2 separate regions of the Homo sapiens genome follow, and region 2 is linked to region 1. The links come from fine-mapping of genetic effects on plasma protein levels. Region 1 holds a variant in brackets. A gene starts in the other region. All regions are shown on their reverse strands. Region 1 has its middle 3.9 kb from the start of AK3. Region 2 holds the start of PLXNB3 (plexin B3).

Evidence for each region. A credible set is the group of variants that fine-mapping cannot tell apart. PIP is the chance, under the fine-mapping model, that this variant and not a neighbour inherited with it causes the effect. The UK Biobank Pharma Proteomics Project read protein levels with antibody pairs (Olink). The fine-mapping took linkage between variants from a reference panel, not from the people measured, so its PIPs are less certain.
Region 2: it holds the start of PLXNB3, and the variant in region 1 is the best candidate, but not a certain one, in a credible set for the plasma level of the PLXNB3 protein (UK Biobank, PIP 0.56).

What each region holds. Positions count from the first base shown.
Region 1 is chr9:4,742,429-4,747,799 of GRCh38, reverse strand. No RefSeq gene overlaps it. Among named protein-coding and RNA genes, the nearest start is that of AK3, 3.9 kb to the right of the region's middle. The variant A/G (reference allele first, on the strand shown) is at 3,057.
Region 2 is chrX:153,760,660-153,766,030 of GRCh38, reverse strand. PLXNB3 (plexin B3) reads right to left here and starts at 1,782. Exons shown (of 36, transcript NM_005393.3): 1 at 1,727-1,782; 2 at 451-560. The coding sequence starts at 495. PLXNB3-AS1 (PLXNB3 antisense RNA 1) reads left to right here. Exons shown (of 3, transcript NR_199696.1): 2 at 2,182-2,321.

The DNA.
Region 1 (5,371 bases):
CTGGACCTTCTTATGCCAGAAAGTAAAGAAGTGCACAAAGAGTAATGGGGACATGCCAAAAGGACACAGATGCTAGCTAACACGAAGGAGATTCCATTAGCCAAATCTTAAATGATTTGAACATCAAAATAAATAATAATGACAATGGCTTACAACCAATTTAATAAAATAAGAAACCATATAAATAAATGTAAGATAGTGAGTAAATTAAAAGTTTGATGAAAGATAAGGTATTTACAAAGTCTGAACTTCAACTACCCTCTTACAGAATACTTTTTTTTTTTTTAAAGACAGGGTCTCACACCGTTGCCCAGGCTCTAGTGCAGTGGTACGATCATAGCTCCCTGCAGCCTCCACCTCCTGGGCTCAAGTGATCTTCCCACCTCAGCACCCCACTCAACCCACTCCCTGAGAGGCTAAGAATATAGGCTGGGCCACCATGCCCAGCTAATTTTTTTTGAATTGTTGCCCAGCTGGTCTTAAACTCCTGAGCTCAAGCAATCCTCCCTCCTCAGCCTCCCAAAGTGCTGGGATTATAGGCGTGAGCCACCGTGCCGGGCCTAGAATACTTGTTAATTACAAATGGAAAAAGAGTAATTTCATAGTGGAGAGATCCTGCAGACACCACCTTAACTGGGTGATCAAAGTTAGCATCATCAATAATGCAACACATTAAAATCATATGCCATCTGATAGAACATAACAAAATCACAGCACTACTTCTGTAATATTATCTACCAAAGATGAATAAGCTGAATAGAATCATGAGAGAACATCAGATAAACTCAAAGAGAGGGTGTTCTACAACATAACCTTCCCATAATCTTCAAGAGTGTCAAGGTCATTACACTGGCATAGTATGGGAAGTTAAAAAAGAAAACAAAACAATGAACAAAGAGTGTCAAAGTCATAAAAGTCAAGGAAAGACTACGGAATTACTCCAGATTGAAAGAGAACTGAAAGAGAATAAAGACATGGAAACTGAATGCAATGTGTGATCTTGAAAATCACACAACTAAAATTTACTGTATGATTTCATAACTTCTGTTATAAAGAACATTAGTGGAACATTTGGGGAAAACTGAATAAGGTCTGATTAAATGTTAGTCATGTGATTTTTTTCTTATTTTAAAAGTTATAGTGTGGTTATGCAAAAATGTCATTGTAGGAAACATACATGAAAGTATTCAAGAATGATGGGGCATCTCAAATGGCTCAGAAAAAAAGAATCTTTGTACTGTATTTGCAACTTTTCTATAAGTTTGAGATTATTTCTAGGAAATGAATATTTGTATTCAGAATCCAACTAGCTCTCATCACCTATACCATGCAAGCTTAAGTCATCATCCTCTCTCACTTGCATTATTACTTAAAACCACCATGATCACTTTATTTTCTCCCATGGCTTCTGTGGTTCAGGAACTTAGGAAGGGCTCAGCTGGATAGTTTTGGCTTGAGGTGTCTCACGCAAGTGCAGTTAGATGGCTAGAGTTGGGACACCCAGGGAATAAAGCACTACTCTCTCCATGTCATCTCAGGACGTTCCTAAGTGGTTTCTCCATGTGGGCTAATCTGGACTTCCTTACAGCCTGTTGGCCTCAGGGCAGTCAGATTCCCCATGTGGCAGCTATAGGCTTCCAAAATGAGTGTCCTGGTGAACAAATCAGAAGCTGCTTTGTCTTTTATGACTTAGCCTTGGAAGTCACATAATATCACTTCCACCATGCTCAATTGGTCAAAACAGTCACAGAAGCCTATTCAGTTAAAGGTGGAGGGGACAGGGACCTCACCTCTTGATGGGAGAAGTGTCGAAGATAAGCTCATGGACTGGGAGTGGGCGTCGTGGCCATCTTCAGACAATACCATTTGCCACAGTGGTTTGTTAGGCCCTGTAAGGTCTGGACCCTCACTACCTCCCTGAGCTTTCTTGTTGAATAACTTTCATTTCTTGCTCTCTCTGTTCCAGGCAGAATGGCTTCTTTGGAAACTCAAGCACGCTCCTCCCTCAGGGGCTTTGCGTTTGTTCTTTTTCTCTCTAGAACATTCTTCCCCCAGATATTTTATTTATTTATTTATTTTCGAGACAGAGTCTCACTCTATCACCCAGGCTGGAGTGCAATGGTGCGATCTCGGCTCACTGCAACCTCCATTTCCCGGGTTCAAGTGATTTTCCTGCCACGGCTTCTTGAGTAGTTGGGATTACAGGTGTGCACCACCACGCCTAGCTAATTTTTGTTTGTTTGTTTGTTTGTTTATTGAGACAGAGTCTCACTCTGTCACCCAGGCTGCAGTGCAATGGCGTGATCTTGGCTCACTGCAACCTCTGCCTCCCGGGTTCAAGTGTTCAAGTGATTCTTATGCCTCAGCTTCCCAAGTAGCTGGGACTACAGGCACATGCCATCCCACCCAGCTATTTTTTGTATTTTTAGTAGAGATGGGGGTTTCACCATGTTGGCCAGGCTGGTCTCGAATTCCTGACCTTAAGTGATCCGCTCATCTTGGCTTCCCAAAGTGCTGGGATTACAGGTGTGAGCCAACACATCCGGCCAGGATATTCATTTATTTATTGAGACAGGGTCTTGCTCTGTTGCCCAGGCTGGAGTACAGTGGTGTGATCACAGCTCACTACAGCCTCAACCTTCCAGGCTCAAGCAATCCTCCCACCTCAGCTTCCCAAATAGTTGGGACCACAGGTGCACACCACCACACTGGCTAATGTTCTTCTTCTTCTTCTTTTTTTTTTTTTTTTTTGTAGAGGAGGGGGTGTCATTATGTTGCCTAGGCTGGTCTCAAACTCCTGGACTCTAGTGATCCTCCCGTCTTGGCCTCCCAAAGTGCTGGGATTACAGGTGTGAGCCACCACACCTGGCCTGGAGTGGATTTTTATAGTAGTGGATAACTGATGTACCTTCCTTCTCTTTGTCTTACTACAATCACTACAATCCTAGTAATTATTTCTCAAACATGAACCCTCCTATTCTTTTGTTCTCACCTAGGTAACACATAGTGTGAAGCAACATACAAACACATATACATGTTTCTTGGAAACAAGCTGT[A/G]TTAGTTCCCTAGAGCTACAGTAACAAATTACCACAAACTAGGGGGCTTGAAACAATAGAAAGTTATTCTCTCACAGTTCTAGTGACTACAATTCATAGCCAAGGTAAGGGCAGGGTTATTCTCTCCCAAGGATCCTAGGGGAGAATCAGCTTTGTGTCTTTCTCTTGGCTTCTAGTGTCCCTAGCAATCTTTGGTGTTCCTCGGCTTGTAGCTGTATAAGCCCAATATCTGCTTCCATCGTCACATGGCATTCTCCTGCTATGTTTTCAGGTCATATTGGATTAAGAGCTGACCATCTTCCACTATGACCTGATCTTAACTACTTATGTCTGCAAAGACCCTATGTGTAAGTAAGGTCATCTTCTGAGGTACTGGGGATTAGGACTTCAATATATCTCCTGGGGGAATACAATTCAACCCATGACACATGCCTATCATTTCCCCCTCAGTTGTACATTGTAGAGTTGTACATTGAAGACTTAAACATTTCAGTCTTCAAATGTGACAAAGGCCGGGCATGGTGGCTCATGCCTGTAATCCCAGAACTTTGGCAGGCCAAAGCAGGAGGATCATTTGAGGTCAGGAGTTCAAGACCAGCCTGGCCAAAATGGCAAAACCGCTACTAAAAATACAAAAATTAGCGGGGCATGGTGGTGCAGGCCTGTAGTCCCAGTTACTTGGGAGGCTGAAGCAAGAGAATCTCTTGAATCCAGGAGGCAGAGGTTGCAGTGAGCCAATATCTCGCCACTGCACCAGCCTGGGTGACAGAGAGACTCCGTCTCAAAAACAAACAAACAAAAGTGACAAAACAGTAATTCTTAGTATTTAATCAACAAAACCCTACTGAGTGCCTACTATGTGCAAAGCACTCATCTGGGCTTTATTTGCTTCAAACTAATCTGTATAAACACTTGGTCATTAAATTAGAATTTGAATGAATTTGACCTCAGTGTTTTTCAGTTGGAACAAGGTAGGCAGTGAGGAACAGATCCATACAAAGGCCTGTGAATGGCGAAAAGACTATGCCAGGCACAGTTGCCAGGAGATTTCACAGACTGGCAGTTACTCATTTGTAATCAACAACCTTTTGCAAAGCCAAAGTTGATTGGTGTTTTGCGGGCCTGTTAATATGACCACGACACTCAGCTTTTCATCCCCGCAATGACAGGATGATTCCTCAGCTATTTTTGTTTGTTTGAACATTTTTTTTTTCTAAACCAAATTTCCCCAGGATTTTCTTTCTGGTTTCTTTTGGAGCTGAAACCTCCTATGTTCCCAGCTTTGGAGATTAGAAGTACTTTCTCCACACCTTCAGATTTTCTAGTATTGCATAAGTTGTACTTGTCCAGACTTGCTCATTCTTTAGTTAGTTCTGTTCAAGTTTTCTCATCCTTTCATTTATGTTGTTTACTTCATCCCTTCCTCTGCTTTCCATGGGTTATTTTGATGTCCTTTTCCCAATTACATGAATTCAATGTTTAATTCATTTATTTTCATTCTTTTCATTCTTTCTTGCTTAGTAATGAGTATGTATGAGCCCTGCTGGGCACAGTGGGGTGGCTCAAGCCTGTAATCCCAGCACTTGGAGAGGTCAAGGCGGGCAGATCATTTGAGGTCAGGAGTTTGAGATCAGCCTGGCCAACATGGTGAAATCCCATCTCTACGAAAAATATAAAAATCAGCTGGGCGTGGTGGCGGGTGCCTGTAATTCCAGCTACTCGGGAAGCTGAGGTATAAGAATCACCTGAACCTGGGAAGTAGAGGTTGCAGTGAGCTGAGATCGCATCACAGCACTCCAGCCTGGGCAACAAAACAAGACCCCGTCTCAAAGAAACAAAACGAGGCCGGGCGCGGTGGCTCACATCTGTAATCCCAGCACTTTGGAAGGCCAAGGCGGGTGGATCACCTGACGTCGGGAGTTTCAGACCAGTCTAAGCAACATGAAGGAACCCTGTCTCTGCTAAAAATATAAAATTAGCCGGGTGCGGTAGCGTGTGCCTGTAATCCCAGCTACTCGGGAGGCTGAGGCAGGAGAATCACTTGAACCCGGGAGGCAGAGGTTGCCGTGAGCCGATTGCACTCCAGCCTGGGCAACAAGAGCAAAACTCTGTCTCAAAGAAAAAAAAATGTACAAGGTATGTATTTTCTTTCTTTCTTTTCCACACCAGAAAGTATAAAGGCTAATGCCTTTTCTAAGTACCAGGCTGTCTACCTATTGAAATCCCCCATCCATTCACTCAGCTACGATTCACTGACTGTCTCACCCTGAAGTCATTTCTATCTTCTTTGAAATCAGTTCTGGACCTCTGAGGAG
Region 2 (5,371 bases), not on the chromosome of region 1:
GTCCCAGGAGAAGAGCAGACCAGGAGAGCTGGCTGGGGGAGGGGTCAGGGAAGGGGCAGGGAGGGGTGCCAGACTGGAGATGGTTCCTGGGTGTGCCTGGTGGGACCCCGGGGTGAGCCCCCGAGGGTGAGAGGTGGGAGCAGCCCCTTCTCTGGCCCCTCCTGCCCTCCACAGAGAGATGCTGCCCTGGGTGTGTGGTCACATGCCGACCAGGAGTGGGGCCGCTGCGACTCAGGGCAGAGCAGCGCCTGGAGGAAGGCCCAGGAGCCGCTTATCTCAGGAACACAGGCAGGAAGAGCACGGACACTTCCTGCGGACCCCGGGCTATCTGGGGCAGTGTCTGCCATGAGGGAGGCTGCAGCCTGTATGTCCTGGGCCTGGCCACAGCCATCCTGCCCTACCCTGCCCCTCCCAGGAACATTTCTGGGGACACCGGGCCTGGGCACTTACCATGAAGTGGTGCAGCAGAGGGGTCTCCTGGGCGGCGTGGCACATACGCTCAGTTCAGCTGCCCCAGGGCAGTGGCGATGGGCATGAGATGGCTGCGGGGGGGCATTGTCCTGAGTGGGAGGGAGACAGTCGAGGCTCAGCCCCATTCGAGCTGGCCTGGGGAAGGAGGGGCGGCGGTGGGGGTGGCGCCCAGGGCCTAGCGACCGGGCTCCCTCACAGCTGGCAGCTTTGTCAATAGTGGCCAGGCCAAGGCAGCCCTGCCTCCACCACAACAATGTTCCCTCTGTCCAGAGGCCAGGCCAGGGCCCCACTCGCTAGTGCTGTCACCCCCACTGGGCTGTTCTGGACAGGGGGCTCCTTGCCACTTCCCACCCTCAGGGAGCCACCCCCGGGATCCGGGGACAAAGGGCCGGGGTTTCCTCCAGCCAGCCCTCCCCCTCTGGCCCTGCAACCCCTGTGTCACTAAGCATGCCCCTCCCTGGCTCCCCGGGTCCCTGTGAAGGGCACGGGGTGGACCTTGGAGCCCCTGCAAATGCCGGCTGGTAGCCTTGGGGCCTGGGTGAAGTGCCAGTCCTGGCCCTCAATGCCTGCCTTTGTCCAAAAGATCTTCCTCCACACCCCCAGCCCAGCCCTGCCCCTGGGGACTGGTGAAGTGGTGCCAGGTACAGCATGGTGGCAGCGAGCAGGACCACGGGAGGAGGCTGCTTGAGATGGGCTGAGGCAGAGGGTCCACAGGCCGGGGCTGTCCACCCCACCCTCTGAAGCACCGTCCTGCTGGCCTAGATGCCATCCATGCAGGGGATGGGGAAGGGAGGGGCACCTAGCAGCTAGACCCCCTGTCACCCTCACAGGCCACCCTGGCCAGTGGCACAGGAGCAGGTGCACTGGGGATGGGGTCTCTGCCTCCCCCACAGCACGGCAGCAGTAGGCTCCAGGGCAAGGTGGCAGTGGGCTGCTGTCACCTGGCTGGGCCAGTTGGGTGGCTGTGGGGGTGGGGAGCCAGGCGGGCAGCCTCTCTACCCTGTACCCTGCCCGAGGCTGGCGTTGGCTTTCCCATTTCGGGGAAGAAACATGGTTCCCCACCTCCTAACCCCAGGGCTACCACTTGGGGGACACCGTGCTCCCAGACACCTAGTGCCGTCGTCAGGCTGGGCCGACACCCGAGCGCTCTTGCCTGACCCCAGCCAGTTGGCCCTGAGACCCTGATGCCTTGCCCTGAGGCTGGTAGCCCCTGCACCCCAAGCCCAAGCCCAAGCCTGCCCCAGCTCTTGCCTACCTGGTGGGCCACCGGCGAGGGCCAAGTAGCAGCTGGCGGTGCCAGGAGCACGTCTCACAGAGCCCCAGCCTCCCTCCCCACAATGCAATCGTGCCCAGTCCGACTCATCCCAACAAGCCCGGCCAGGCAGCCCAGCCTCTCTCCGCCCGCCCCTTTGCCCAATGGCACAGGGCAGGATGTTGCTGCCCTCTGCTGGCCGCAGCGGGCATGATGGAGTACTGACCGTGGGCACCTGGCAGGTGAGAGACGGCAGCGCCCTCCTATTGGGTGGGCATTCCATAACCTGGCACGAAGCACCTACTGGATGCCAGGCTTGGGCTTGGCACTGGCACCATCCAGAAACAAACACAGGTTGGGAAACTGAGGCACAGGAGGTTAGGAAACTTGAATAAAGTCACACAGCTAGTATGTGGCAAGGCTGAGTCAATCACAGGGCCCCTTCACTTAACCGTCAGGCTACATGACCTTGAACCATGAACCTTGGCAGGCGTTGGGCAGGAGATGGAGCTGAGGCCTACCCCAGGCCAGGCCTGGACGTGACATGCCCACGTGGCGTTGAGGAAAAACCAGTGTTTCCCACCGACTGGAACACAAGGTTGGTCAAGGGCCGTCTCCCAGGGTGTGGCGGAGGTCAGCAAATCAGGTGGGGTCTTTGTGGCCAGGCTTGAGAACTTGAACTTGTCTCGCCATGGGCAACTGCAAGCTGGTGGCACTGGGGCAGAGAATGTGGGGAGGCCTGGTCCAGTGGTGGTCATGGGCATGGAGAGAGGCGGGCGCGTTCTAGAGGCGCTCTGGGGAGGCAGCATTCTGAAGACTGTGCGTTGGACCCAGGGCAGGAGGCGAAGGCAGGAGAATCCAGGCGACCCTGGGGCTTTTCTGCTGGGGCACTGTTCCCCCTGTGGCAGGGCCATCCACAGAGGGGCTGGCGGAAGTGGGAGGACGGTAAGACTGAGGGGCCCATGAGGGAGGAGGAAATGGTGATGGGGCTGGGGAGGCCTGGGGGTGAGAAGCTTGGCTCAGGTGGCTGGAGCCCTGGGGGCGGCCAGGGTATAGGGCCAGGTGTTGGCCCTGGAGCTCAAAGGCCCAGCAGACTCGGGGTATGGGTGCTTCCCTGAGCAGCTGTGTCATTCTTTCCAACCTGCATGGAGAGAAATGGGGCACAGAGGTGGGTAACTTGCCCAGGGCCATGACCTGACGTCGTTTCTTCAGAGTGCATTCCACAGAGATGGGATTTGAACCTGGGCATTCTGGCACGGGCCACGCTCTGGACCACTGGGCCCCAGATCCACAGCTTCTCACCTGCAGCCGCTGAGGATGTGGAGGCAGACCAGGCAGGCCCGTGGGAAGGACCACCAAAAAGCGAGTGAGCAGCCGGCGAGGGGTCTCTCCCCAACAGGAAGGCCAGGCAGCCTTGAAGGAGCCAGGGAGGGATTTAGAAGCTCCAGGAGGGGAGGCTTGGGGGAGCCAGCTGGCCTCTCTCCCTCTCCCTGTCCTTCCCCCCATGCCTACCCCAACACACACACACATGTCCTTGCTGGCCCCGGATGAGACAGACGCCTGCAATCTGGCATGGGGAATGGGTTTCTCCTTCCTTTCCACAGAAGAAAATAAATCAGGCTGGGCGTCGTGGCTCCCGCCTGTAATCCCAGCACTTTGGGAGCCTAAGGCAGCAGGATCACTTGGGCCCAGGAGTTCTAGACCAGCATGGGCAACATAGTGAGACCCCCATCTCTATAAAAAAATTTAAAAATTAGCCAGGCATGGTGGTGCGAGCCTGTAGTCCCAGCTACTTGGGAGGCTGAAGTGGGAGGATCGCCTGAGCCTGGGAGTTGGTGCCTGCAGTGAGCCGTGATGGTGCCATTGCACTCTAGCCTGGGTGACAGTGCAAGACTCTGTCTTTAAAAAAAAAAGAAAAGAAAGAAAGAAAAAAGAAAATAAATCCATCCACAGGCAGCACCATTTTCATAAATATGTGTGTATATGGCCTGCATATGCACCTTCTACGCTTTCTGAGCAGATAAGAGGCGTGGCTATGGCAGCCCCTGGTCTGAAGCTGGTGTAACCAGAAAGGATCTAGGCTGGTTTGGGGAACCGGAACATCTTATGTCAGGGGAGTCGTGCTGGATTTATCCTGCAATGGCCGGGTCCCCTCACCAAGGGATGGGAAGGCAGCGTCAACTGATCTGGTGTCGTCTCCTTGCTGTGTGCCAGGCTTCTCAATGCTGGAAGGGGACTCGTTGGGTCAGTGGGACGTGGGCTTCACGTTTGCTGGGCTGAAGACGTAGCTCTCCATGCTGGCATCCCAGCGGACACCCCCACTGCCACTGCTGCACCACGTCTTCACGTACACCAGAGAGCAGACTTGAGAGTTTCTGCGCATACAGTGGGTGTGAAATGGTGCCCTGCTGGGTTTTGAATCGGCATTCCTTGACCACCGGCCATATTGCAGCACTTTTCATTTCTTCTGTCAAATGCCCGTGCATGTCTTGGCTTACACTTTGCAGGTGTTCTGTATTTTCCACACCAATCCCTGGGGTGTATGTCTTCGGCCTACCTGTTACTTGTCTTCTCAGTTTGCTGATGTATCATGTGATAAACAGAAAGTCTTAATTTTAATATCATAGCATTTATCAATCTGATTTCTTTTTTTGAGACGGGGTCTCGCTCTGTCGTGCAGGCTGGGGTGCATTGGCGCAATCATGGCTCACTGAAGCCTCCTGGGCTCAAGTGATCCTCCCACCTTAGCCTCCCAAACACCTGGGACTACAGGCAGGCGCCACAGTGCCTGGCTAATTTTGTAATTTTTTTGTAGAGACAGGGTCTCGCTATGTTGCCCAGGCTGGTCTCAAACTCCTGGACTCAAGCGGCCCTCCCGCCTTGGCTTCCCAAAGTGCTGGCCCGTGAGCCTGTGAGCCACTGCGCCTGGCTACCTTCTTTTGAATTCCCATTCAGACTGTGTGTTGCTGGTACATAGAAAAACAATGGATTTCTATGTATCAAGTAACCTTGTAAACTCTCATATTAAGTCTAATAATTATGTTTGGGTTCTCTTTGTGGATTCTTTTTGATTTTCTGCGTACACAATCCTATCATCTGCAAGTAATGACCATTTTGTTTCTTCTATTCCAGTCTTTTTAGCTTTGATTTCTTTTTTTGAGGCAGAGTCTGGCTCTGTCACCCAGGCTGGAGTATAGTGGCACAATCTTGGCTCACTGCAACCTCCGCCTCCCTGGTTCAAGCAGTTCTCCTGCCTCAGCCTCCCAAGAAGCTGGGACTACAGGCACCCACCACCACGCCTGACTAATTTTTGTATCTTTACCAGACACAGGGTTTCACCATGTTGGCCAGGCTGATCTGGAACTCCTGATCCACCTGCCTTGGCCTCCCAAAGTGCTAGGATTACAGGCGTGAGCCACTGTGCCCGGCTGATTTCGTTTCCTTGCTTTACTTCCCTGGACTTGCTTTCTCTTGCTTTTACTTCCTTTGAATGAAAGCATAGGAGGCGCTGGGCATGGTGGCTCACGCCTGTAATCCCAGCACTTTGGGAGGCCGAGGTGGGTGGATCACCTGAGGTCAGGAGTTCGAGACCAGCCTGACCAACATGGAGAAACTCTGTCTCTACTAAAAATACAAAAAAATTAGCCG